Homo sapiens: one gene and its partner. The protein of the gene in region 1 interacts with the protein of each later gene in a pairwise test. Each region holds a gene or a part of one and is shown in the gene's direction. Other genes may lie near its edges.

Region 1 (12,081 bases):
GCAGGGCCTTGGGTCTTAATAGGTGGGGAAATCTCTGCCAAATAGGAGGCCTCTCGGAGCCTCAGTTTCCCCATCTGCAGACTGGGCTCTGACTTCTTCTGGCATGAGAGGGTGTGTGAGAGTAAAAGGAGGCAGCTAGCCCCGTGCCGGGAGACACGTAAGCTACTGTTTTTTAACTTGCTGTTTTGATATTTCTCAGTCTCTCTGTGCCCAGTCTTGCTTGCCCCTGTCATTTGCTGCCACTCTGAAGCCAGAGGGAACTTAGAAAAACAATCCGCTTAGATCTACCCCACGCTGAAAATCGTCCACCGAAGTCCCATTGTCGTCTAAGTCCCCAACTTCTCAGCAGGGCTTCCTGTTATCTTCCGCCACTACCTTCTCCAGCCTCTCTCTGCCTCTGTTCTCCCTCCCTTCGGGCCTTTGGCCCTCCTCTGGGCTCGGGGTCCTCCTTGGAGACCCCACCGCCCTCTGCACTCCCTGGGTGGCCTCGGTGATGACCGTGAGTTCTCGATGCTGGTCCCTTCAGGGCAAGAAAGAGGCGCAGAGCCCGGCTGGGAGTAGATGTTTTCAATGAGCTGAGCTAGGCCTGGCGTGGGGCCATGGGGTGGGGTTGAGGGTGGTTGACGGTGGGTCCCCTAGGTAGGGGATCGGTCTTTGTTCCACCGAGTGGCAAAGCCAGCGCATTTGGTTTGTGTTCCATCAGCAGGGGCAGGAATGGGAGGGAAGGTGATTTCAGATGGGCCCGTGCCTGACACTTCCACCATCAGCCGCACTATTGTGGACTGAGCCCGCCGTGCGCTTGGCATTTTCGCGGCACCATCTGCACAGCGTCCGAGCCCTGCGACGCAGCACCGCTCCTGTCCCCTTTGACAGATGAGGAAACTCGGGTGGGGCGGTGAAATCGCCTGGCAGGGGTCACAGAGGGAGTGGGGACCAGTCAGGGCTCAATCTCAGGTCTGAGCCAAAGCCCCCCGAGAATGGAGGGAAGGATGGAGGGATTGAGTGGGGGAGGCGTGTAGAGTAGGGTTCTTGTTGAGAAGGAGGGCTTGGGCTTCCCGCAGGAGGGGCAGTCCAGGCTGAGAACTGGGGCGGGCGCAGGGTCCCAGGTGGGTGGTGGCGGTGGGGTGACCGTCTCCCTGCTGGGTGGGGTCGCCCGTCCGGTCGAGGCCGTCCAGGGGTGCTAATGGGGGCACAGGCAATGGCAATGTTGGAGGCCCCCTTGGGTTCCCGGTACACTCCTCGGGTTTCCGGCCTCTTCCCAGCACTCAGGGGCTCCTGAGGGCGGAAGAGCTATTCCCAGCTTGGCGGGGCCTGGGAGGGGGCTCTGGGCAGACGTAGGCGCCGGGCTGCACCTTCCCTGCCCGCCTGTTTGCACTTCTCTGTGACTGTTGGCTTCAGGTCCTTAGCCAGCGGAGGGCTGACTCCGGCCTGGCTGCCCCCTCCCCTTTGCCTCCCGTCCCTCCCCCTGGACACTCCAACCCCCATCCCTTCGTGTCCCTCCCCCTCCTCTCTCTCTGCTCCTCCCTCGCCAGACCCCCCGCTCTCCCCGGAACAATGGAGGGGAATGTGGCTAGGCCAGCCTGACGCTGCTGCGTCAACCTCTGGCTCGTTCTCGGCCTCTATCGCTTCCAGGGACCCTTCTATCTGGGCTCAGCTGACCCGCCCCGCCTCTCGGCCCACGTGCCGGCAGTTCTCCCAGGCTGGGGCTCAGCTGCGCTGGAGACTGGGATGGGTCAGCTCAGTGTCTCTGTCTGTTTACAAAGGAGGAACCCAGGTGCACTAAGGTAACTTCGCTACTCTGCTAGAGTCTCACCCCGATCCCTGCGCCATTTCCCTTCCACCTCCTGCACTGTTAAGCCTTGGGCTGTGAGATGGGCCAGTGTAGCCCGGCTACTGCCGTGTTCCCTGGGTCAGGGACAGCTGCCTCACTGGGAGCGCCTTAGAAATGTAGAATCTTGGCCAGGAATCTGGAGCCTGTAATCCCAGCACTTTGGGAGGCCGGGGTGGGAGAATCTCTTGAGCCTGGGAGGTCGAGACCAGCCTGGACAACACAGTGAGACCTTGTCTCTACAAAAAATAAAAAAATTAGCTGGGTGTGGTAGCACACGCCTGTAGTCCCAGCTACTTGGGAGGCTGAAGTGAGAGGATCCCTTGAGCCCAGGAGGTTGAGGCTGCAGTGAGCCATGATTGTGCCACCAAACTCCAGCCTGGGTAACAAAGCAAGACCCTGTCTCAAAAAAAATAAAAAAGAAATGAAGAATCTCAGGCCCCACCCCACACCTGCTGAATGGCAATCTGCATTTGAACAAGATCCCCAGAGATTCCTGACTGCATTAAAGTAGGAAGTAGAATCACTGGCTTAACTCTGTGCCTTAGTTTCCTCATCTGTAAAACAGGGCTGCTAAAAGTGCCTCCCCTGTTGGGTCGATGTTTACGTGCATGTAGTTGATGTTTGTAATCCCCCAACAGGGCCTGACGCAGAAGTCTGTGGACAGTGGCTGTAGGGTGTATGAAAGCACTACAGCCTGCCCCATCCCCATAGTGCGGGCCACTACCCACCACACCTGCCAGCAGTGGGCTGGCTCCGGGCTGGAAGCTGCCCCAACACCATGCCCAACCCTGGCCTTCCCCAGCCAGCATCCCATGGAAGGCTCAAGACACCCTCATTTTGCAGAGCAGGCTTGGAGAGGTTCTCGCTTTGCCAAGAGTGAGGTGTCTGACTTGAACTCTTATCCCCCTGCCTTCTATCATCCTGTCTTCAATAAAGGGGCTGAAGCTATTAAGAATGGAATCTCTGGCTGGGCACGGTGGCTCATGCCTGTAATCCGAGGACTTTGGGAGGCTGAAGCGGGTAAATCATGAGAGGTCAGGAGTCCGAGACCAGATTGGCTAAAATGGTGAAACCCCGTCTCTACTAAAAATACAACAATTGGCTGGGTGTGGTGGTACATGCCTGTAGTCCCAGCTACTCGGGAGGCTAAGGCAGGAGAATCGCTTGAACCTGGGGGGCGGGGGTCTGCAGTGAGCTGAGATTGTGCCACTGCACTCCATCCTGGGCAACAGAGGGAGATTCTGTCTCACAAAAACAAAAATGAATGGAGTCTCCTTCAATGAGCTCCCTCTTACTAGAGTGTAAATGGCTGATAGCACTGCTAAAGCCCTCCTTGCAGTAAGCACAGGGCTGCTTGGCTCCCATTGATGTGGGTGGTGGGTTTTCAGGCCAGGAGGGCAGGAAGTTGGGGAGTGGGTAATGGGGGCTGCATGATTGGGCCGTAAGTCTCCAGACATGCGGGCAGGCTGAGCAGGGGCTGGGAAAGCCAGAGTCTTGGTACCCAGCTGAACTCCAGAACCTTCCAGGAGGAGCTGCAGAGCCTACGGAAAATTCCCAGGCTATTTTCGGCCGAGGCCCCCTTCTCCCAGCCGACACACCCATCCCTGGGGCAGTCAGGGTGGGCGTGGCTTCCTGCCCCCACCACCCTGGGCTCCCTCCCTTGGCCGGGCACTCATCAGAGCCTGGGGGCTGACTGGGGAAGGGGGTGCATGGCCAGCTGGGCACCTCCTGGTGCAGCCTCTCCCCCTTACCCTGCTGGCTTTTTCTCCGTAGCATTTCTGCTGTCTGACTTACTCCGTATTTCACCAGGGTCTTTGTTAGCCGGGCGACCCTGGGCAAGTTACTTGACTCTTTGTGTCTCCGTTCTCCCATTAGTGAAATGGGGATAGAATGAGCTGGGCTGTGTGAAGTGTTGTAAAGTAGTAAGCAGAATGGCCCCAGGACACTGCTGTGGTGGTGGTAGTCATGGTCTGTCCCACTCCCTTATCTGTTGGTTCAATAGGAAGTGGCAGAGTTCATCAAGGTCCCCTGTGGCAGCACAGGTGCCCAGCGTGCTGTGCGGTGAGGTGAGGCTCCCCGCTCCATGGACGTGTGCATACAGACGGCAACAAGTTCACGCATGCATACACGTGTATGCGCTCAGATGCAGAGACAGCCATGTGTGGGCACATATGTATGTGTACACATGCGTATATACACAGCACACACATACACATGTGCATACACCTACATACCTGTGCACAAACGAGCACACATGTACATGCAGCCTGGCAGTCATGACACCTTGGTCGTGACATTTGGTCGAAGTTTGTTGCAGGCCAGAAGCTCATCTGAGTGGCGGATCTGTTTGCAGCCTTCCTCCCTCCCCCAGCTGTGGGGAGCTGAAGGCTAGTCACAGAGGGCAGGCCCTGTCTTCTGCTGGGGACACTCCAAGGCCATGCCTGGTATTGCTGGGAGAGCAGTGGCTGGCTGGAAGCTGGGACTGTGCTGGTGGGCGGGGCTGCTGTGTGGCCCCATCCTTGTGTATGTGTGTATTGTGGAGGGGACACAGCAGAGGCTGGCCAGGGCCTCAGAGCTGGCTTCTGGGTGCCTGGTTACCCGCCCCCCAGTTGTTTTCTTTCCAGCTGGACTTTGCCCGGCCCTCCCCCGCACTGAGGCCATTCACTCCTCTCTGCTGGGCCTACTGGGGAGTGAGTGGCCCTTGGCCAGGCCTACTCTGGCCACCCCAGCTTGGCTTCAGCCCAGATGGGCCATGAGAGGCTGGATAAAGCTCCTGGGTCTCCCAGTTGGCACTGCCCCCGCCCCTAGTCACGTCTGCTCCGTGCCTCAGTTTCTTCCACTATCAGGTGAGCAGGAATGTAGCCACCTCCTGCTGGGCTGGGCATGGTGCTGAGTGCACACCAATGCAGTGGCAGCCAGCTGGGGCTTTGGGTCCTAATGCTGGCAAAGAATGAGGCTTGGAAGCTGGGTGTGGTGGCTCACGCCTGTAATCCCAGCACTTTGGGAAGCCAAGGTGCGCCGATCGCTTGAGCCCAGGAGTTTAAGACCAGCCTGGGCAACATATTGAAACCCTGTCTCTACAAAAAATGAGCTGGTTGTGGTGGCACGTGGCCGTAGTCCCACAACCCAGGAGGCTGGGGTGGGCGGATCACCTGAGCCCAGGAGGTTGAGAGGCTTCAGTGAGCCATGATCGCGCCACTGCATTCCAGCCTAGGTGACCAAGTGAGATCCTATCTGAAAAAAAAAAAAAAAAAAAAAAAAAGCCATCCTTGTGGCCATTCCTGGACCGTCTGGAGACCCTGCTCTGTGCCAGTGCCTGTGCTGGGCCCTTGGGACACAGAGGGGCCCTGTGCTGCCCTCAGACTCCTCACCCCTACAGGCCATGAGCTTCCAGTGGCATCTCTGAAGGATTGGGTGCACTTGGGGTGTTGAGGGGGCTTGGGTGGAGAAAGAAGGGGGCCCCCATTTTGGGTCTGTGCCATTCACCCAGGGGAAAATGGGTGTGACAAATGGAAGATGCAAGGAGGACGACGATGGTGACAATGACAGTGATGATGATGATGACGCGGCATGATTCCTGAGCGGGCCCTACCCTTTCCACCGCCTTTCCTGCCTCCCATTCCTAGTCCCCCACCCATCACATGGTTTCCCCACTGGCCTCAGTCCCACCCGGGCCCTCAGGGCCTTTGCACAGGCTGTTCCCTATACCTGGAACAGCCTCCCTCCGTTTTGCAAATGGCTACCCCTTTCTTGCTGTTCAGGGTCCTGCAGGCACCCTGATTAGCGTGTGTATTCCCACCCTTCTCCCCCTATCCCCTTCTGTCTGTTTCTTTACAGCCCTTTTGGGATCTGTAATGATCTGGTTTATGTTTATTTAACTGTTTATTCTCTGGCTTCAAGTTCAGCCCTTTGTCTCTGGGGCCTTGAACAGGGCTCGGTATTGGGCACGTGTCTGTTGAGTGCCTTTATGATGACAATTATAACAACAGTCGTAGCTGACAATTACTGCTCACTGGACCTGGGCGGACAGTGTGCCCAGTGCTTAGTGTGTATTATTTTGTTTTCAGTTCAGCCTGATGGTGTGAAATCGGGACTATTATAATTCCCATTTTCCAGATGTGGAAACTGAGGCCCAGAGAGATTAAGTAACTTGTACAAGACCACACAGCAGGCAAGGGGTAGGATTAGAAGTCAGCTATGCTTCATTAGCCGGGCGTGATGGCGGGCACCTGTAACCCCTGCTACTTGGGAGGCTGAGGCAGGAGAATCACTTGAACCCAGAAGGTGGAGGTTGCAGTGAGCCGAGATTGTGCCATTGCACTCCAGCCTGGGCGACAGCAGGACTCCATCTCAAATTAAAAAAAAAAAAAAAAAAAAAAAAAAAAGTCAGCTATGCTTGACTCCAGGAGAAAGGAGGGAGGGAGACTTTGGATAGAACAAGGCAGGGCAGTGTCTCTAACTGTGGAGTTGCGAGGCCACTGCTCCCATCTGCTGTCCTGGGAGGCCTGGACAGGGCCCTCCCCTCCCAGGGCCAGCCTCTTTCCTGGAACTCTGGGCGTTGAACATTCTAGGACTCTATGACCTGTGCTGGTAGGTCATGCGGGGGCCCTGGCCCCCAGGCCAGCAGCTGGGGCCTTTTTGAGGTGGGGGCTCCCCGGACTCAGGAGTTCCTCCTTGGCCGCGGCTGTAGCTGAGAGAAGGGACAGGAGGTAGGATGCCACCTCCTCCAGAAGGCAAGCCAGCCACCAGCTTCCCAGCCCGACAGAACTGAGGCCCAACGGGAGAGTGCAGCAATGTCTGGGGAGGGGTTCTGACATTTCAGGGATGGGGCATCCCTTCTCCTCTGAGCAGTCGGGCCTGGTTCTTGGGTGGCTATGCTTGAAGGCGGTTCGGGGGGTGCGGTGGGATTTTTGGGTGATGTAGGTTGAAGACTCCTATAAATGAGGGGACTGGGGGGGCAAACTGAGGTTGAAGGTTGTGAGAGCTTCATTTCTTTCCATGAGCAGCTGGAAACCTGGATTTTGAGGAAACCCCCTGGGATGTTTAAGATAGTTCAGGCCGGGCATGGTGGTTCATGCCTGTAATCCTAGCACTTTGAGAGGAAGAGGTGGGAGAATCCGTTGAGCCCAGGAGTTTGAGATCAGCCTGGGCAACATAGTGATACCCTGTCTCTATAAAAAAAAAAAAAAAAAAAAAAAAAAAAAAAAAAAAAAAAATTAGGCATGGAGGTCAAGGCTACAGTGAACTGTGATTATGCCACTGCCCTCCAGCCTGGGTGACAGTGAGACACTGTCTCAAAAAAATAAAAGTTATTTATTTTTTTTTGAGACGGAGTCTCACTCTGTCACCCAGGCTGGAGTGCTGTGGTGTGATCTCGGCTCATTGCAACCCACAGCTCCCTGGTTCAAGCAATTCTCCAGCTTTGGCCTCCCGAGTAGCTGGGATTACAGGCACCCACCACCACGCCCAGCTAATTTTGTATTTTTAGTAGAGACTGGTTTTCACCATGTTGGCCAGGCTGGTCTCCAACTCCTGACCTCAGGTGATCCACCTGCCTCTGCCTCTCAAAGTGCTGGGATTACAGGTGTGAGCCACCGCACCTGGCCCATGCTTCAAATCTAAATTTGAAAACCCCATGGGACCTGAGTCAAACCGATCCAGGGCTGCTGCTGTCCCTCCCGGCTGTGTGGTGTTGAGTGGCGTCCTGAGTTAGTTAGGCTTCTCCCTACTTCATCTCGTACCCCCATCACCAGCCCTGCGCAGGTGCCAAGTGATGCCCACCCAGCTGCCCCACTTTGCAGATTCGGAAACTGAGCCCAGAGATGGGAAAGGACTTACCCAAGGGCCTCTGACTGCTGGACTGTTTCTCTTTCCCCTGAACCTCGAGCTGAGGCCACGTTAGAGCCGACACCTTCATATTCAATGTTCAGTGATTATTGTGTACAGCGAGTGTCCTGCTCTTGAAAAATTGTCAAAAGCACAGCAGCAGCTAGGGAATTCCCGCCCTCCAGCTGGATTTACCGGTACATACTAGGGGTCACAGAAGGAATTTGATTTCATAACAGCGTGGTGACCCGGGCTGTGTGGAAATTCACTGGGCCTGATGGAGCTGGATGCAGCCTTGGAAATTCTCCCTTTCCCTTTGGGCTCTCGCAGCAGGCCCCCCAGTCCTGGGTGCAGGCTTGTGACAGCTGCTCAGGGATCCAAACGTGGCGCTTGAGCTCTCTGCGACGTGTTCCACAGTTCCCTGGAGGCGGACACTGCGTGAGGGTCAGTTTTTGCCCCTGCTTCCCTGTGGTGTCTGGCTCCCAGCAGCGTCAGGGAGGGTCCGTGGAGTGGCTGAGTTTGGATCTAGGTGGTTGGCATTAAAATCTCCCTGGCTTTGGGTTTTCTTTTTTGAGACAGAGTCTTGCTCTGTAGCCCAGGCTGGAGTGCAGTGGTGCGATCTCAGCTCACTGGAACCTCCGCCTCCCAGGTTCAAGCAATTCTCATGCCTCAGCCTTCAAGTAGATGGGATTACAGGTGCCTGCCACCATGCCCAGCTAATTTTTGTATTCGTATTAGAGACTGGGTTTCCCCATGTTGGCCAGGCTAGTCTCGAACTCCTGACATTAAGTGATCCGCCTGCCTCGGCCTCCCAGAGTGCTGGGATTGCAGGTGTGAGCCACTGCGCCCGGCCCCTGGCTTTGGGTTTTCTGCTCACCTTCCTCCTTCCCTCCCACAAATACTATGTGTCCCAAATGTGCCGGGATCCATGCCTTGTGCTGGGGACACAGAGGGGACCGATGCCATCCTGGTCATGGGGGAGGATGTGGCATTTTCATGAAGAGCTATGATCGAGGGGGCCCCACGGTTGCTTCAGGAGCCCAGAGTAGGCATCTGACCCTGCCAGGCGTGCTCCCAGACAAGGTGACAATGGTGCTGAGGTGCCCGAGAGGAATGAGCCTCAGATACTGGACTGTCAGACGTGGACATGGGGGTAAGCACAGGGTCCCTACCTTGCAAGGCACGAGCCCCTGACAGCCTCTTCTCTTTCCAGGTCAGCCATGTCATCTGAGCCTCCCCCACCACCACAGCCCCCCACCCATCAAGCTTCAGTCGGGCTGCTGGACACCCCTCGGAGCCGTGAGCGCTCACCATCCCCTCTGCGGGGCAACGTGGTCCCAAGCCCACTGCCCACTCGCCGGACGAGGACCTTCTCGGCGTGAGTCTGGAGCAGGCTGGGGACGCGTTCTCAGATGGATCTCTTGCCTGAGGCCAGAGATTCACTGTGTCTCTGGCCATTTTTGGGCCTATGTCCCGGACTGCCAAATAGGCAGACCTGGGGCTGGGCCGTGGGCTGAGGGTGAGAAACTAGGAAGGCGCCTTGTAAATTCAGGGTACTGCCCAGCCCAGAAGAACCTGTTACCAGCTGGGAGTGGCAATGGGTGGGCAGTTGCTGGGGTCAGAATCGCTGGGCTTTAACCACACATGAGAGTCTGGTTCCCTGTGAGACTGTGAATTCTGCAGCTGCAAAATGGGCACAGCACCAGGGCTGCAAAGGACCCACATAATGCCTGGCAGATGCAGGTCTCAGGCCTTGCGAGTGGAGGATGCTTGTGTTATTAATAGTAAATCATTAGTTTCTGGAGGGATGTTCAGTGATGTTTTAGTTCAACTCCCTCTTTCCAGGAGGGAAAACAGGCCCGAGAAAATTGGCCAGGGTCATCCAAAGAGTCCTTTCCCCCAGCGTCTTTGTGAGCGGCTCCCAGGGTTGAGGGTTGTGCAGTCCTCAGCCTGTGTGACTGTACATGGCGGTCCTGGCCAGGGCTTGATGGGGCACAGCTGTGGGCAGGGGCTGGAATGAGCTTTGTGTGCCCAGGAGCGCTGATGGGGCCCCTGACATTTCCCCCTCTCTGTCAGGACGGTGCGGGCTTCACAGGGCCCCGTCTACAAAGGAGTCTGCAAATGCTTCTGCCGGTCCAAGGGCCATGGCTTCATTACTCCAGCTGATGGCGGCCCCGACATCTTCCTGCACATCTCTGAGTGAGTCAGCGGCAGGTCTGGGTGGCCTGGCTGGGGTGGGCGCTTCCTTGGCCCTGTGGAGGTGGGGATGGTGTGTGACTCTGATGGGCGCTGGGTGTGAGGACGAATGGCTGGGCCTGTGTGACTCTGCCTGTGGCTGGTGCTCCAGCTGTGCTCCTGTGTGTGTGTTGGGTTGGGGTTGTGAGACTCTACGGAGCTGTGTTGGGGGATGTGAGGCTGGGGGCGACACGGTACTTGTGATTGTCCCTGGGTGTGTCTTTGTGAATGGGTGTGTAAGGTTTTGTGTGTGCTGGGCGTGGTGGCTCACGCCTGTAATCCCAGCACTTTGGGAGGCCGAGGTGGGTGGATCACGAGGTCAGGAGATCCAGACCATTCTGGCTAATGGTGAAATCCCGTCTCTACTAAAAAAACACAAAAAAAATTAGCCGGGCATGGTGGCGGGCACCTGTAGTCCCAGCTACTCGGGAGGCTGAGGCAGGAGAATGGTGTGAACCTGGGAGGCGGAGTTTGCAATGAGCCGAGATTGCGCCACTGCACTCCAGCCTGGGCAACAAGAGCAAGACTCCATCTCAAAAAAAAAAAAAAAAAAATAATGAGCAGGGCGTGGTGACAGGTGCATGTAATCCCGGCTCCTCGGAAGGCTGAGGCAGGAGAATCACTTGAATCCAGGAGGTAGAGGTTGCAGTGAGCCGACATCTCGCCATTGCACTCCAGCCTGAGTGACAAGGGTGAAAGTCCATTTCAAAAAAAAAAAAAAGGATCGGGCATGGTGGCTCACACCTGTAGTCCCAGCACTTTGGGAGGCGGAGGCAGGCGGATCACCTGAGGTCAGGACTTCAAGACCAGCCTGGTGAAATCCTGTCATCACAAAAATACAAAAAAATAGAAAAAAAAAAAAAAAAAGCGGGGAATGATGGCGGGTGCCTGTAATCCCAGCTACTTCGGAGGCTAAGGCAGGAGAATCACTTGAACCCAGGAGGTGGAGGTTATGGTGAGCCGAGATCGCGCCATTGCACTGCAGCCTGGGCAACAAGAGCAAAACTCCATCTCAAAAAAAAAAAAAAAAAAAAAAAAAAAAAAAAAAAACAGATCTGCCCAAGATCACATAGCCAGAAAGTGATGGAAATGGATCTGGGGGTGCCCGACTATGCTTGTGGGAGACAGGGTGGTGTCAGCTGTGCATGGTGCATGTGTGTGAGCAGCAGGGACTGCTGGGGTGAGTCCGAGTGCCCATTATATCTGGCCAAGGACACCCCATGAGGCTGGGGAGCCCTGTTTGGCCTGGGGACCAGTCCAGCTTCCTGCCCTCCTTTGGGGGAGGTGGACTGGTGAGGCTGGGGGCTGTCCTGCCCCTTTGCTCCAGGAAGGAAGTTTGGGGTGGGTCTTTCTCCTCCTGCATGCTTACTGACGTCCTTCCTTCCTGAGTGTCTGAAAACCCTTGGGGAGCCGGGGGTGGGGCGCACACATCCTAGGGCTGGGCTGGAAGGCACCCAGCCCCCCATGCTTCACCTCTGATCCTCTGGGCAGCCTTTAGACAGGGGAGGACCCTCGATCTGCACCCTTGTCCCTACCTGCTTCTTTGGCCTAAGCACCCCCAAGTCTTTTACTTCAGGCAGGGGCAGACAGAGTCCTACTCTGCACAGCATACCCGCTAACACGGAAACCACATTTCTGAAAAGAGGAGCCCACTGCAATGGGGGAGTTACCCCTCCTTTGCCCACCCCCGCCCCATGCTTACCTATCAGATCGGCAGGCAGGAGAATACCAAGGTGACGCATTTCACATATGCATGCATACATGGATGTGTAAGGGTATTTCCATACTGCCTTGTCCCAGAAAGGATTTTGAATCAGTAAGGAAAACATAGAGGTTGGGGCAAAGAAATATTTAGGAAGATGGAAATATTGTGATGTCTGGTTCTGCTGCTGGAAGTAGGCTGCAGATTTATTTCTGAGCTCCCTCGTGACCAGATCAAAGAGGGAAACACTCTTCACCATACGATTCTCCAATCAAAACAAACCAGTTACTAGGGGAGCTGGCTGGCCCTTGCATTTAGCATCTGAAGGGGGTTTTCCTCTGGGGGGGTTTCATCAAGGGGACATCAAGATGCCAGTCTCATGTGAGAGGGTGACTCATGTCCCCTAGAAAGTAAGGGAACCTTCCTGGGGGTGGTCACAGGGAGAGGCCCCTCCAGGAACTAGCTTCATGCACCAAAGGGACCTTCT
Region 2 (12,179 bases), on another chromosome or scaffold:
GCCAGGTAACCTGCATTCTACTTGGAATTTTGAGAACTGAGAATGCAACGTGAGTCTGTGGGGCTCCTTTGTAGACCACTTTATGTTGGCATAGGCAAGAAGGTAGTGCCAGTCCCCTCTACCCTGGCTGCCAGGTCAGGAGCTTTCCAAGAACCCCAGTTTTTCTAGCAACCATCCCCCAGCCCAGTGGGTTCTCATCCAGGGGTGATTCTGCCCCAGATGACATCTGGCAATGTCTGGAGACATTTTTGGTTGTCACATATGGGAGTGGGAGTGCTGCTGGTATCTAGTGGATGGAGGTTTGGGATGCTGCCCTGCTACGGTATACACAATGACACCTACCGCAAAGAAGTATCTGGCGTCAAACATCAGTAGTGCCCAAGTTGGGCAGCTCTGCCAGAGCCTTTCTGTAGCTTTCCTAGTTCAGGAGGAAAGACTATGGGGTTGTTACTGACATCCCTGGGATTGGAATATAATTCTCACCAAGTCTTACCAAGAACTGGAAGACAGTTTCATGGTTTTTAAAAACAGGACTCTTGAAGAAACCAGAAGATGAATGGTTGGGTGCTGTGGGGTAGCTGAGTAATGGAGCTCTTTTTTTTAATAGATGAGGAAACTGAGATACAAGGTCACTAATGACCAAACCTGAATTCCAGCTCTAGGTCTTGTAGGCTGTAGTTCTGGGTTTGGGTGGGCACTGAGATAGCCAAGCTAAAAAAGTAATGATTAGTTTTTCCTTTATCTTGATAAACTGAAAACCACAGTAATTTACAATGTGAGTCTTCCCCTTATTTAAGAAGTAGGGCACTAAAGTCAAAGGCATTTTAATTCACATTTCAGACAACTAATAGCTTTAAGGGTAAGTCCTAGAGGCCTCGAAGCAAATGTTAGCATTATTAAACATAAAAGGTGACTGATAAATCTTTTTATTAACTCGCCCTGCTTTTGAACCCTGTTACCTTATTTATACGTGGGAAAGGAAGCTGCATCTCTAGCACTGAGAGGGGAAGAGGAGAGCAGTGGTAAACAGCACAGAAATATCCAGAATCAGGCCCTCAAACAAAGGTCTGAAATGCTACTGTACTTGTCATAGAAACATTTATTGTCTCACACAGTTTCTTTATGTTTGGAATGGATAGGTGATTTCACTGGGTGGTTCTAGCTTGGAATATCATGAGGTTACATTTAGGATCTCTATGTGGACTAGAGTCATCTGAAAGCCTGACTGAGGCTGGAGGTCCCACCTCCAAGGTGACTTAAACTCCCATGCCTGGCAGGCTGATGCTGGCCAATAATTCTTGGCCCCATGGATCTCTCCCTAGGGCTGGCTGCTGGAGTATCCTCACAACATGGTGGCTGGTTTTCTCCAGACTGAATGATCCCAGAAAGAGCAAGGCGAAAATCCCAGAAGTCACACTCAGTCATTTTCATAAATCTTATTGGTTGCACTGGCTAGCTCTATTAGTTGGGAGGGATCTACATAACGTTAAGAGGCAGGAATGGAGACCATCTTTGAGGATGGTTGTCACCCTACTCTTGGCTCAGATAATAAAGATTGAAGGCAACCTAACCTAATTCCAGTTATCTTTTAATTTTTGGTACTCTGTGTTACTCCTTCAAATAAGACTCTTTTTTTTTTTTAGATCAGGCACGGTGGCTCACACTTGTAATCACAACACTTTGGGAGGCCGAGGCAGGAAGATTGCTTGAGGCCAGGAGTTTGAGATGAGCCTGGGCAACATAGCAAGACCCTTTCTCTATAAAAATTAAAAATAAAAAAGTTAGCTCTGCGAGGTTGAGGCTGCAGTGAGCCATGATTGTGCCACTGTGCTCCAGCCTGGATGACAGCGAGACTCTGGGATTTTTTTTTTGTTTTTTTTTTTGAGACGGAGTCTTGCTCTGTCACCCAGGCTGGAGTGCAGTGGCGCCATCTCGGCCCACTGCAAGCTCCGCCTCCCAGGTTCATGCCATTCTCCTGCCTCCGCCTCCCAAGTAGCTGGGACTACAGGTGCCCGCCACCACACCCGGCTAATTTTTTGTATTTTTAGTAGAGACGGGGTTTCACCTTGTTAGCCAGGATGGTCTTGATCTCCTGACCTTGTGATCCGCCCTCCCTGGCCTCCCAAGGTGCTGGGATTACGGGCATGAGCCACTGCGCCCGGCTGACTGGGAGGTTTGCTGGAGCCCAGGAGTTCAACATTGCTGAGCTATGATCATGCCATTGCACTCCAGCCTGGGCAACAGAGCAAGATCCTGTCTCAAGAAAATATATACTCTTTTTTAAAAAGGAGAAAGGAAAAGTATAAAACTGAGAAGCATTTGTTTTGTTTTGTTGAGACAGGGTCTCACTATGTTGCCCAGGTTGGAGTGCAGTGGCACAAAATCATAGCTCACTGCAGCCTCGCCCTCCTGTGCTCAAGTAATCCTCCCACCTCACCTCAGCCTCCCAAGTAGCTGTGACTACATGTGCATGCCACCATGCCTGGCTAATTTTTTATTTCTGAGATGAGGTCTCACTATGTTGCCACGCAGGTCTTGAACTCCTGGGCTCAAGTGATCCTCCCAACTCAGCCTCCCAAAGTACTGGTATTACAGACATGAGCCACAGCATTTGGCCTGCTTTTGTATTTTTGAGCAAAAAAAGTTGACGAGAGATTGGTTAAAAGCAAGGAGTGTTGCTGCAGAACTAGAAATCCATGGTCTCAAAGTGAGAGGATTGCTTAAGCCCAGGAATTCAACACCAGCATGGGTAACATAGTGAGACCCTGTCTCTCAAAACAAAAAAAGAAAAAGAAAACAAAAATTAGCTGGGCCTGGTGGTGCGTGGCTATAGTCCCAGCTATACAGGAGACTGAAGTAGGAGGATCACTTGAGCCCCGGAGGCTGAGGCCACAGTGAGCAGTGATTGTGCCACTGCACTCCAGCCTGGATGACAGTGAGACCCCCTGTCTCTAATAAAAATAGAAAGAAAGAAATCCGTGGGCTAGGCGTGGTGGCTCACGCCTGTAATCCCAGCACTTTGGGAGGCCGAGGTGGGCGGATCACGAGGTCAGGAGATCGAGACCATCCTCGCTAACACAGCGAAACCCCATCTCTGTGAAAAATACAAAAAATTAGCCAGGCGTGGTGGCAGGTGCCTGTAGTCCCAGCTACTCAGGAGGCTGAGGCAGGAGAATGGCGTGACCCCAGGAGGCGGAGCTTGCAGTGAGCCAAGATCGTGCCACTGCACTCCAGCCTGGGCGACAGAGCGAGACTCCGTCTCAAAAACAAACAAACAAAAAAAAAAAGAAATCTGTGATCTAACATTTAGCTTTATAGGGCCATATAGGGCATATTTTATTTTTTTCAACCAGCGCTAATCAGGCTGATAAATTGTACCAAGAGAACACTTTACAAACCAGCTAAGAATTTAGGCCGGGCGTGGTGGCTCACGCCTGTAATCCCAGCACTTTGGGAGACCGAGGCGGGCAGATCTTCTGAGGTCGGGAGTTTGATACCAGCCTGACCAACATGGAGAAAACCCGTCTCTACTAAAAATACAAAATGCGTAGTGGCGCATGCCTGTAATCCCAGCTACTCGGGAGGCTGAGGCAGGAGAATCGCTTGAGCCTGGGAAGTGGAGGTTGCGGTGAACCGAGATCGCACCATTGCACTCCAGCCTGGGCAACAAGAGTGAAACTCCGTCTCAAAAAAAAAAAAAAAAAAAAAAGAATTATTCATAATAGGAGCCAAAACTGGCTACAGAAGGGCCTGCTCTGCGATCTTTGCAGATGGTATTGTGGAACAGAATGTTAATGTGGTGCAGGGTATAGAGTTAGAGCAGAGATTGCCATTGATCTTGGAGGGTTTGATGGATCGTCTTTCCTTCCTAGGGAAGCACCAGGGCCCCTCTCGCCTGAACAGACACAGATATTTTGCTCAGCAGCTTGCTGACTGTATCTTGTGAGGGTGTGGTAGGCTGTCATTTGCAGTTGCAGTACTCACAGATCACATTACCTAAAGTCTGAGGCCATTTTACTGGTGGCCCAATTGCTGAAAGAACAAGTTTCCAGAGGCCAGTTGAGCAAACAGTGGAGACCGCAGGGGCTGGGTATTCCTTACATTATAAGGCTTTCCCCTGGGTGAACTCTTCAAAGCTGCTCTCAGTGTTTCTTATGGACAGCTATTAATCAACAATGCCTGGATTTTAGGCATCTCAGGAAGGTCCAGATCCCTGGAAGGAATCCATTTGAATGGATTTCTAGCCTCTTTACTTAGGGAAGGTAGAAGACTGGATCTGTATACCCTCGGTTTTATCCTGCCTCAAGTCCCAGTCCCTACTCTGGAAAGTGAAGATGAAGCTGGGTTCACAGCTCCGTCTTTGGAACCCTTGGAGCTAGATGTATTTTGGAATTCTAGCTTAAGAGAAGTCACGTGGGGTCTGGGGAAGCACCTTGTATTTAAATAGATTAATTCTGCACTAAGTAGGACAAAGAAAGATTATAAATGTCCTTACAGGTGAAAACAGCTCCAGCGTGAGTTTTGGCACCACACTGGTAGAAAACACTTGGTGTTCAGACCCTTTTGGACCTGGGGGAATTGCAGAGTAAGGAATCTTGCCCACCTGCCCTTATTGTCTGTGGTGAGGATGAAATGAGATCATTGCAGATAAATGTTCTTAGCACCCTGCAGGGAAAGCACTTGTTTGCTGTTGGCTGCTGCTGCTGTGGTCTTAAGAGATAAAATAGAGACACTGTCAACAAATAAGAGAACGCTTACCCAGGGGGAAGGCACTTCTGTAGGTTTTTGATGTAAACAAGCTGTTAAAGGCATAGGCTTTAATTTTCAGGTCATGAGTTGGCTCTGATGGGAAAGGCAAATACTGCCTCTTATGGTATCTGTCGTAATTTCAGTGCTGAGAGAAAATTATTCAAAAATATGTATTTCTGGCCGGGCGCAGTGGCTCACGCCTGTAATCCCAGCACTTTGGGAGGCCAAGGCGGGCGGATCACAAGGTTAGGAGATCGAGACCATCCTGGCTAACATGGTGAAACCCCATCTCTACTAAAAATACAAAAAAATCAGCCGGACATGGTGGCACGCGCCTGTAGTCCCAGCTACTCAGAAGGCTGAGGCAGGAGAATCGCTTGAACCCGGGAGGTGGAGGTTGCAGTGAGCCGAGATCGTGCCACTGCACTCCAACCTAGTGCGAGACTCCGTCTCAAAAAAATATATATGTATTTCTAACTGTAGAGTTGTTGTTTTTTCTTTTTTTAATGTAGTTTTAAAGCAAGTGTCAGGATTAGCATCAGTCATAGTCTGTAGGAGCACTGGTTTCTGATAGAGGTAGAAGTTTTCCTTACTTGGCACTAACTCATTTTATTTTATTTCATTTATTTATTTATTTTGAGATGGAGTCTTGCTCTATTACCCAGGCTTGAGTGCAGTGGCACGATCTCCACTCACTGCAATCTCCGCCTCCTGGGTTTAAGCAGTTCTTCTGCCTCACCCTCCCAAGAACCTGGGATTACAGGCAGGTGCCACCACACCCAGCTAATTTTGGGGTTTTGTTTGTTTGTTTTGAGACGGAGTCTTGCTCTGTCGCCTAGGCTGGAATGCAGTGGCATGATTTTGGCTCACTGCAACCTCTGCCTCCTGGGTTCAAGCGATTCTCCTGCCTCAGCCTCCTGCGCAGCTGGGACTACAGGCACACACCACCACGCCCAGCTAATTTTTGTATTTTTAGTAGAGACAGGGTTTCACCATATTGGCCAGGCTGATCTCGAACTCCTAACCTCGTGATCCACCTGCCTCGGCCGCCCAAAGTGCTGGGATTACAGGCGTGAGCCACTGTGCCCTGTAATTTTTGTATTTTTAGTAGCTAATTTTTGTATTTTTAGTAGAGATGGGGTTTCACCATGTTGGCCAGGCTGGTCTTGAACTCCTGGCCTCAACCAGTCCACCCCCCCTTGGCCTCCCAAAGTACTGTGAGTACAGGCATGAGCCACTGCATCCAGCCCTAATTCATTTTATGTTGAGAAATAGTTTGAAAGTTGAGAAGATAGGAAATTTTATGTATATATAATAATACTTATTTCCATATGACCATGCCACCCCAAATAATTACTTTTAAGAAATAATTGTTTTTTGTTTTTGTTTTTGTTTTGAGACAGGGTCTTGCTCTGTCACCCAGGCTGGAATGCAGTGGCGCAATCATAGCTCACTGCAGCCTTGACCTTCTGGGCTCAAGTGACACTCCCACCTCAGCCTCCCAAGTAGCTAGGACTACAGGCACATGCTGCCACAGCTGGCTTTTTTTTTTTTTTGTAGAGACAGGGTTTCACCCTGTTGCCCAGGCTGGTCATCTTGGCCTCCCAAAGTGTTGGGATTACAGGCATGAGCCACTGCCCGGCCCAGAAATAATTGTTATAATTGTTATACACACTTTTTAATGGGAAAACCAAAATAAAAAGCAGTTTCTGTTTCAGATTTAGAACAGGGAGGGGGGTATTATTTGCTTTAACATGGTTTTGAAGCTAACCTCCATCCTTGTTTGAATTCCAAGTGGCTCACCCTTCAGGGATTTGAATAGTTTCCTCATTTAACAGAATGATAACTTGGGTGTTCATTTCTCAAAATAGGCTACTGGCTTAAATGTTTAAAAATTTTTATTTGGGGCCAGGCTCTGTGGCTCACACCTGTAATCCCAGCACTTTGGGAGGTTCAGGAGGGTGGATTGCTTAAGCCTAGGAATTAAAGACCAGCCAGGGCAACATGATGAAACCCCATCTCTACAAAAAAGTATAAAAATTAGCTGCGAATGATGGCACGAACGTATAGTCTCAGCTACTTGGGAGGCTGAGGCAGGAGGATTGTTTGAGCCTGGAAGGTCGAGGTTGCAGTGAGCCGTGATCATGCCACTGCGTTGCAGCCCGGACAGAGTGAGACCTTGTTTTTAAAAAGTAAATAAATAATTTTTTAATCTAGTCCTCCTGGTATAGCAAGTTAAACATAGCCTGCCTTTCCATTGGGTAATATTTTCTGACGGTCTAATTAAACTGTGGAATCTAGAGGTTTTGGTGGCTTTTCGTTGAGAGAAGGGCCTGCTGGCAATCCTATACCAAAGGTTAGGTAGTCTCAGGTCATTTCCCTGTGACTTGCTTGTGGAAATTAACCCCACTGTCTTTATGTTTAGGCTTTGTCCAGGGATCTGAAACCACTTTGCAGTCGACATACTCGGATACCAGCGCTCAGCCCACCTGTGATTATGGTAAGTGTGGACTTCTGGTGGGAACCAAAGTGTTCTGCAGAGCAGTTCCTTGTCTTCTTAGTTGCCTTTGGCTTTGCTGTCACCCTGTCATGCTTTTTTAAACCTAAACTTGTGTGAAATGGTGTGGCCATTTGAATAGCTAGTGCTTCCCTTTCAGGCAATTATGGGAAAAGTAGCTGTGTTCCTGAGCAAGTTAGGCTCTTTGATAAAAGGCCTGGCTTCAAATCCCCATGGGGGAGGGACTGGGAGTCACAGTGGCCAATTAAAGTCCAAAGGAGGCCAGGCGCGGTGGCTCCTGCCTGTAATCCCAGCACTTTGGGAGGCCGAGGCGGGTGGATCACTTGAGGTCAGGAGATCGAGACCATCCTGGCCAACATGGTGAAATGCCATCTATACTAAAATACAAAAAATTAGCCGGGCATGGTGGTGTGTGCCTGTGGTCGCAGCTACTCAGGAGGCTGAGGCAGGGGAATCACTTGAACCCGGGAGGCAGAGGTTACAGTGAGCCGATATCATGCCACTGCACTCCAGCCTGGCAACAGAGCAAGACTCTGTCTCAAAAAAAAAAAAGTCCAAAGGATTGGTCCAGGAGAAAGCAAGCTATTAACTTAGTCCCAGCATAGTGCATGTCCTTGCTGTGGGAGAGAGGCTGAGTGTGTGAATCTGGCAGCTTTTGGAGACTCAGCCAGGCCACCTCAAGCCAGCAGGCTCCACACACACAGAGTTGAGTGAAGATCTCTGATTGAGTTTTCCAGCGTGGACAGAAACACCTAATTAGCTAATTCAGAAGTAGCCACCAGTAGGATTCACAGATGCTGTTTTGTTTGTGTGCTGTGGCAGCCCGGACTGCTGTTAAAGCTGGTTTTTGGTTGTCTGTGACTCTAGGGGTATCTGTTGAGAAGGAGCCCTCTTTGGAATTAACAGGGATAATGTCTTAGTTACTGAGATGGGTAATTTCTTTTACTACCAAGATCTGGGGAAAGACTGATCCTACACAGCTAACATGCCTTCAGGGGTCACTGCATAAAGAGACTTAAGTAAGCTCCCCAAGTAACAGCAGCTAGTCCCAGGAAAAGGGAAGACTTAAAATATTTTGAAATTGAGTGAGAAGGTATCAGGTGTCTCATAAATGAGGAGAAACTTGGTTTGCTTGACTTCCCTGTGCTGCCCTCCCTGCCTCTCCCTTTTCATCAAATGTAGTCCCTAATTGCACATCCTTTTGAATTATTTTCCCTCTGGATTGCATATTCTGAGTACAAGCCATTTCTCGGATATGCCATTTACAAATATTTTCTCCCAGACTGTGGCTTGTCTATTCTCTTGTCAGTGTGTCTTGTCTTGTGTCAGAAAGAACACAAGTTGTTAATTTTGAAGCCCAATTCAATCTTTTCTTTAATAGATGATGGTTTTGCTTTTATATCTAAGAAATCTGTAATATTTTCTTTAGAATTTTCTTTTAGGTGTTTTAGTTGTGGGTTTTACATTTAGTCTGTGATCCATATTGAGTTAATTTTTCTACAAGGTGTGCAGTATAGGTTAAGGTTTCTTATTCTTCTATGGCATATAAATATATAATTGTTCCAGCACCATTTGTTTAAAAAACAAAAACAAAAACAAAACCATTTTTTCTTTCTTTTTTTTTTTTTTTGAGACAGAGTCTCACTCTGTCCCCCAGGCTGGAGTGCAGTGGCGCGATCTCAGCTCACTGCAAGCTCCGCCTCCTGGGTTCATGCCATTCTCCCGCTTCAGCCTCCCGAGCAGTTGCCCGCCACCACGCCTGGCTAATCTTTTTGTATTTTCAGTAGAGACGGGGTTTCACCGTATTTGCCAGGATGTTCTCGAGCTCCTGACCTCGTGATCCTCCCGCCTCGGCCTCCCAAAGTGTTGGGATTACAGGCGTGAGCCACCGCGCCCGGCCTCTTTCTTTCTTTCTTTCTTTCTTTTTTTTTTTTTTTTGAGATGGAGTTTCGCTCTTGTTGCCCAGGCTGGAGTGCAATGGCGCGATCTCAGCTCACCACAACCTCCACCTCCCAGATTCAAGCTATTCTTGTGCCTTGGCCTCCCAAATAGCTGGTATTACAGGCATGTGCCACCACGCCTGGCTAATTTTTGTATTATTAGTAGAGACGGTTTCACCACATTGGCCAGGCTGGTCTTGAATTCCCCATCTCAGGTGATCCACCCGCCTTGGCCTCCCAAAGTGCTAGGATTACAGGTGTGAGCCACTGTGCCAGGCCTATATTTTCTCTATTGAATTGCCTTCGTACCTTTACTGAAAATCAGTTGACCATATACTGTGGGTCTATTTCTGGACTCTTGGACTCTCATTCTGTTCCATTGGTCTGTACATCTAAATTTCGTTCAGCAGCACGGTCTTTTTGTATTTTTAGTAGAGACTGGTTTCACCATGTTGGCCAGGCTGGTCTCAAACTCCCGACCTCACATGATCCACCTGCCTCGGCCTCCCAAAGTGTTGGAATTACAGGCATTAGCCACTGCGCCTCGCCCAGCAATGCAGTCTTGATTACTGGTTAATAGTAATCTTGAAATATGAGTCCTCCAGGTTTGTTCTTTTTTCCAAAATTGTTAGTTTCTTTGCTTTTGCATATAAATTTTAGAATCAGTTTATGAAGTTTTTTAAAAAATTCATGCTGAGATTTTGAGTGAGAGAGCCTTGGATCTATAGATCTATCAAATCTGTAGAATCTATAGATTAGTTTGAGAAAATTGACATCTTAACAATATCAAGTCTTCTGATTCATGAGTGCAGTATGTCACTTCACTGATGTAGTGTTTTGTAGTTTTCAACACAGATCCTACACATACTTTGTTAGATTTACGCCAAGTTTTTCATGCTTTTAGTGCTATAGGAAATGGTACTTTTAAAAACTTTCCATTCATTGCTGATATATAGAAATTTGATTGCTATTTGATTTGTAGGTTTACCTTGTAATATTTGAAATTTGACTTACAGATTGACCTTGTAATAAACCTTGCTAAGCTCACTTATTCTAGTAGCTCTTTTGTAGATTTGTTTGAGATTTTTTTACATACACAATTGTGAAAGAATAGAGATGGATTTATTTTTCCTTCTGGCTTGAATTGCAAGAACAATATAACATTTAAATAACATTTTGAAAAACAGTCAACCAAGATCCTACCATATTAATGTTTAATTTTTATCAGCTTACTGATTTTGTGTAGTTTAATAATTTATAGGTGGATAGAATTGTGGGTACTGCTCTTATTTTATTTTATTTTTTTAAGATATGATCTCACTCTGTCCCCCAGGCTGGAGCACAGTGGCACAATTTCAGCTCACTGCAACCTCCACCTCCTGGGCACAGATAGCCCTCCCACCTCAGCCTCCTGCATAATTGGGACTACAGGCATGCCCTACCATGCCCAGCTATTTTTTGTATTTTTTCTAGAGATGGGGTTTTGCTATGTTGCCCAGGCTGGTCTCAAACTCCTGGGCTCAAGCGATCTGCCTGCCCCACTTCCCAAAAGGATTACAGGTGTGAGCCACTGCGCCTGGCTGGTCCTGCTTTATTTTATGTTAGAAGCATTTCCTTGTGCCACATAAGGCATAGTAAATTCTTTTTATATGCTTACATGATATGTCACCGAGTAGGTAGGTGTAATCTGATTAACTATTACGTTAAAGTTGAGTGTTAAATTGTTTTCTATTTTTGGTCCATAAATATCACATACTGTGACCATGTCCTTTTTTCTTTTAAAAATTATGTCCTTGGGGCCAGGTGCAGTGGCTCATGCCTATAATCTCAGCACTCTGAGAGGCTGAGATGGGAGGCTTGAGCCCCCAGGAGTTTGAGACCAGCCTGGGCAACATAGTAAAACCCTATCTCTACAAAAATAGAAAAAATTAGCTGGGCATGGTGGCACATGCCTGTTGTCCCAGCCACTCCGGAGGCTGAGGCAGAAGAGTCACTTGAACCCAAGAAGTCGAGGATGCAGTGAGCTGTGATCACACCATTACACTCCAGCCTGGAGGACAGAGCAAGACTCTATCTCAAAAATATATATGTACATATATCTTATTTTTACATATATATGTATATATTTAATAATAATAAATATATAAATTTTAAGGATCTCTCTCTCTCTCTCTCTCTCTCTCTCTCTCTCTCTCTCTCCTTAAAATTTCTTTTGTCAACCATGATCTCATCCCTTCTGGGGATGGAAATGAGTTGGGGTGTTCTTTCAGAAAGGGCAGGTCTTGGGGAGTCCCTAAACGCCAGTCTAGATGAAGGCTTCCTCCTGAAGGGACCCAGCTGGGATGTCCATCAAGGAGTCTGGGTTGCTCCAGGCATAGCAAGTGGCATGTAGTGAGTGTTTGCCTGGAGGGACTCCTGAGAGTTGCCCATCGTGGGAGGCCCTGCTTGTCCTTAAAACGTAAAGTGGTGTTCACGGAGTTGATGCTGCTTCCTTTCGTTGTGCCTCCTCACTCTGTTGTGGCAGATCCTCAGCAGGTGAAGCTTGCAGTGACCACATTGTAGCCTCCCAAGCAGAGCCCTGATGGATCTGCTTTTGCCTCCATATCCTATTTTCTTTTTCTTTTCTTTCTTTTTTTTTTTGAGACAGAGTCTCGCTCGGTCGCCTAGCCTGTAGTGCAGTGGTGCAATCTTGGCTCGCTGCAACCTCCACCTCCCAGGTTCAAGTGATTCTCCTGCCTCAGCCTCCCAAGCATCTGAGACCATAGACGCGCACCACCACACCTGGCTAATTTTTGTATTTTTAGTAGAGATGAGGTTTCACCATATTGGCCAGGCTGGTCTCGAACTCCTGACCTCGTAATCCACCCACCTTGGCCTCCCAAAGTTCTGGGATTACAGGCATGAGCCACCACGCCCAACTCCTATTTTCTTTAGAATAGCTAGTGCCCACTGTCCCTGGTACAAACAGTCAC

What was found.
Region 2: the proteins of CARHSP1 (region 1) and AKAP8L interact in binary tests that used the Homo sapiens proteins (3 or more experiments, as listed by UniProt).

What each region holds. Positions count from the first base shown.
Region 1 is NC_000016.10:8,856,125-8,868,205, reverse strand, and holds part of CARHSP1 (calcium-regulated heat-stable protein 1), read left to right. Parts: exon of another isoform or gene 1-157; intron 158-777; exon of another isoform or gene 778-954; intron 955-1,763; exon of another isoform or gene 1,764-1,784; intron 1,785-6,471; exon of another isoform or gene 6,472-6,564; intron 6,565-7,632; exon of another isoform or gene 7,633-8,101; intron 8,102-8,870; 5' UTR 8,871-8,877; coding exon 8,878-9,035; intron 9,036-9,733; coding exon 9,734-9,856; intron 9,857-12,081. UniProt on the Homo sapiens protein: Binds mRNA and regulates the stability of target mRNA. Binds single-stranded DNA (in vitro).
Region 2 is NC_000019.10:15,405,590-15,417,768, reverse strand, and holds part of AKAP8L (A-kinase anchor protein 8-like), read left to right. Parts: intron 1-7,174; coding exon 7,175-7,249; intron 7,250-12,179. UniProt on the Homo sapiens protein: Could play a role in constitutive transport element (CTE)-mediated gene expression by association with DHX9. Increases CTE-dependent nuclear unspliced mRNA export.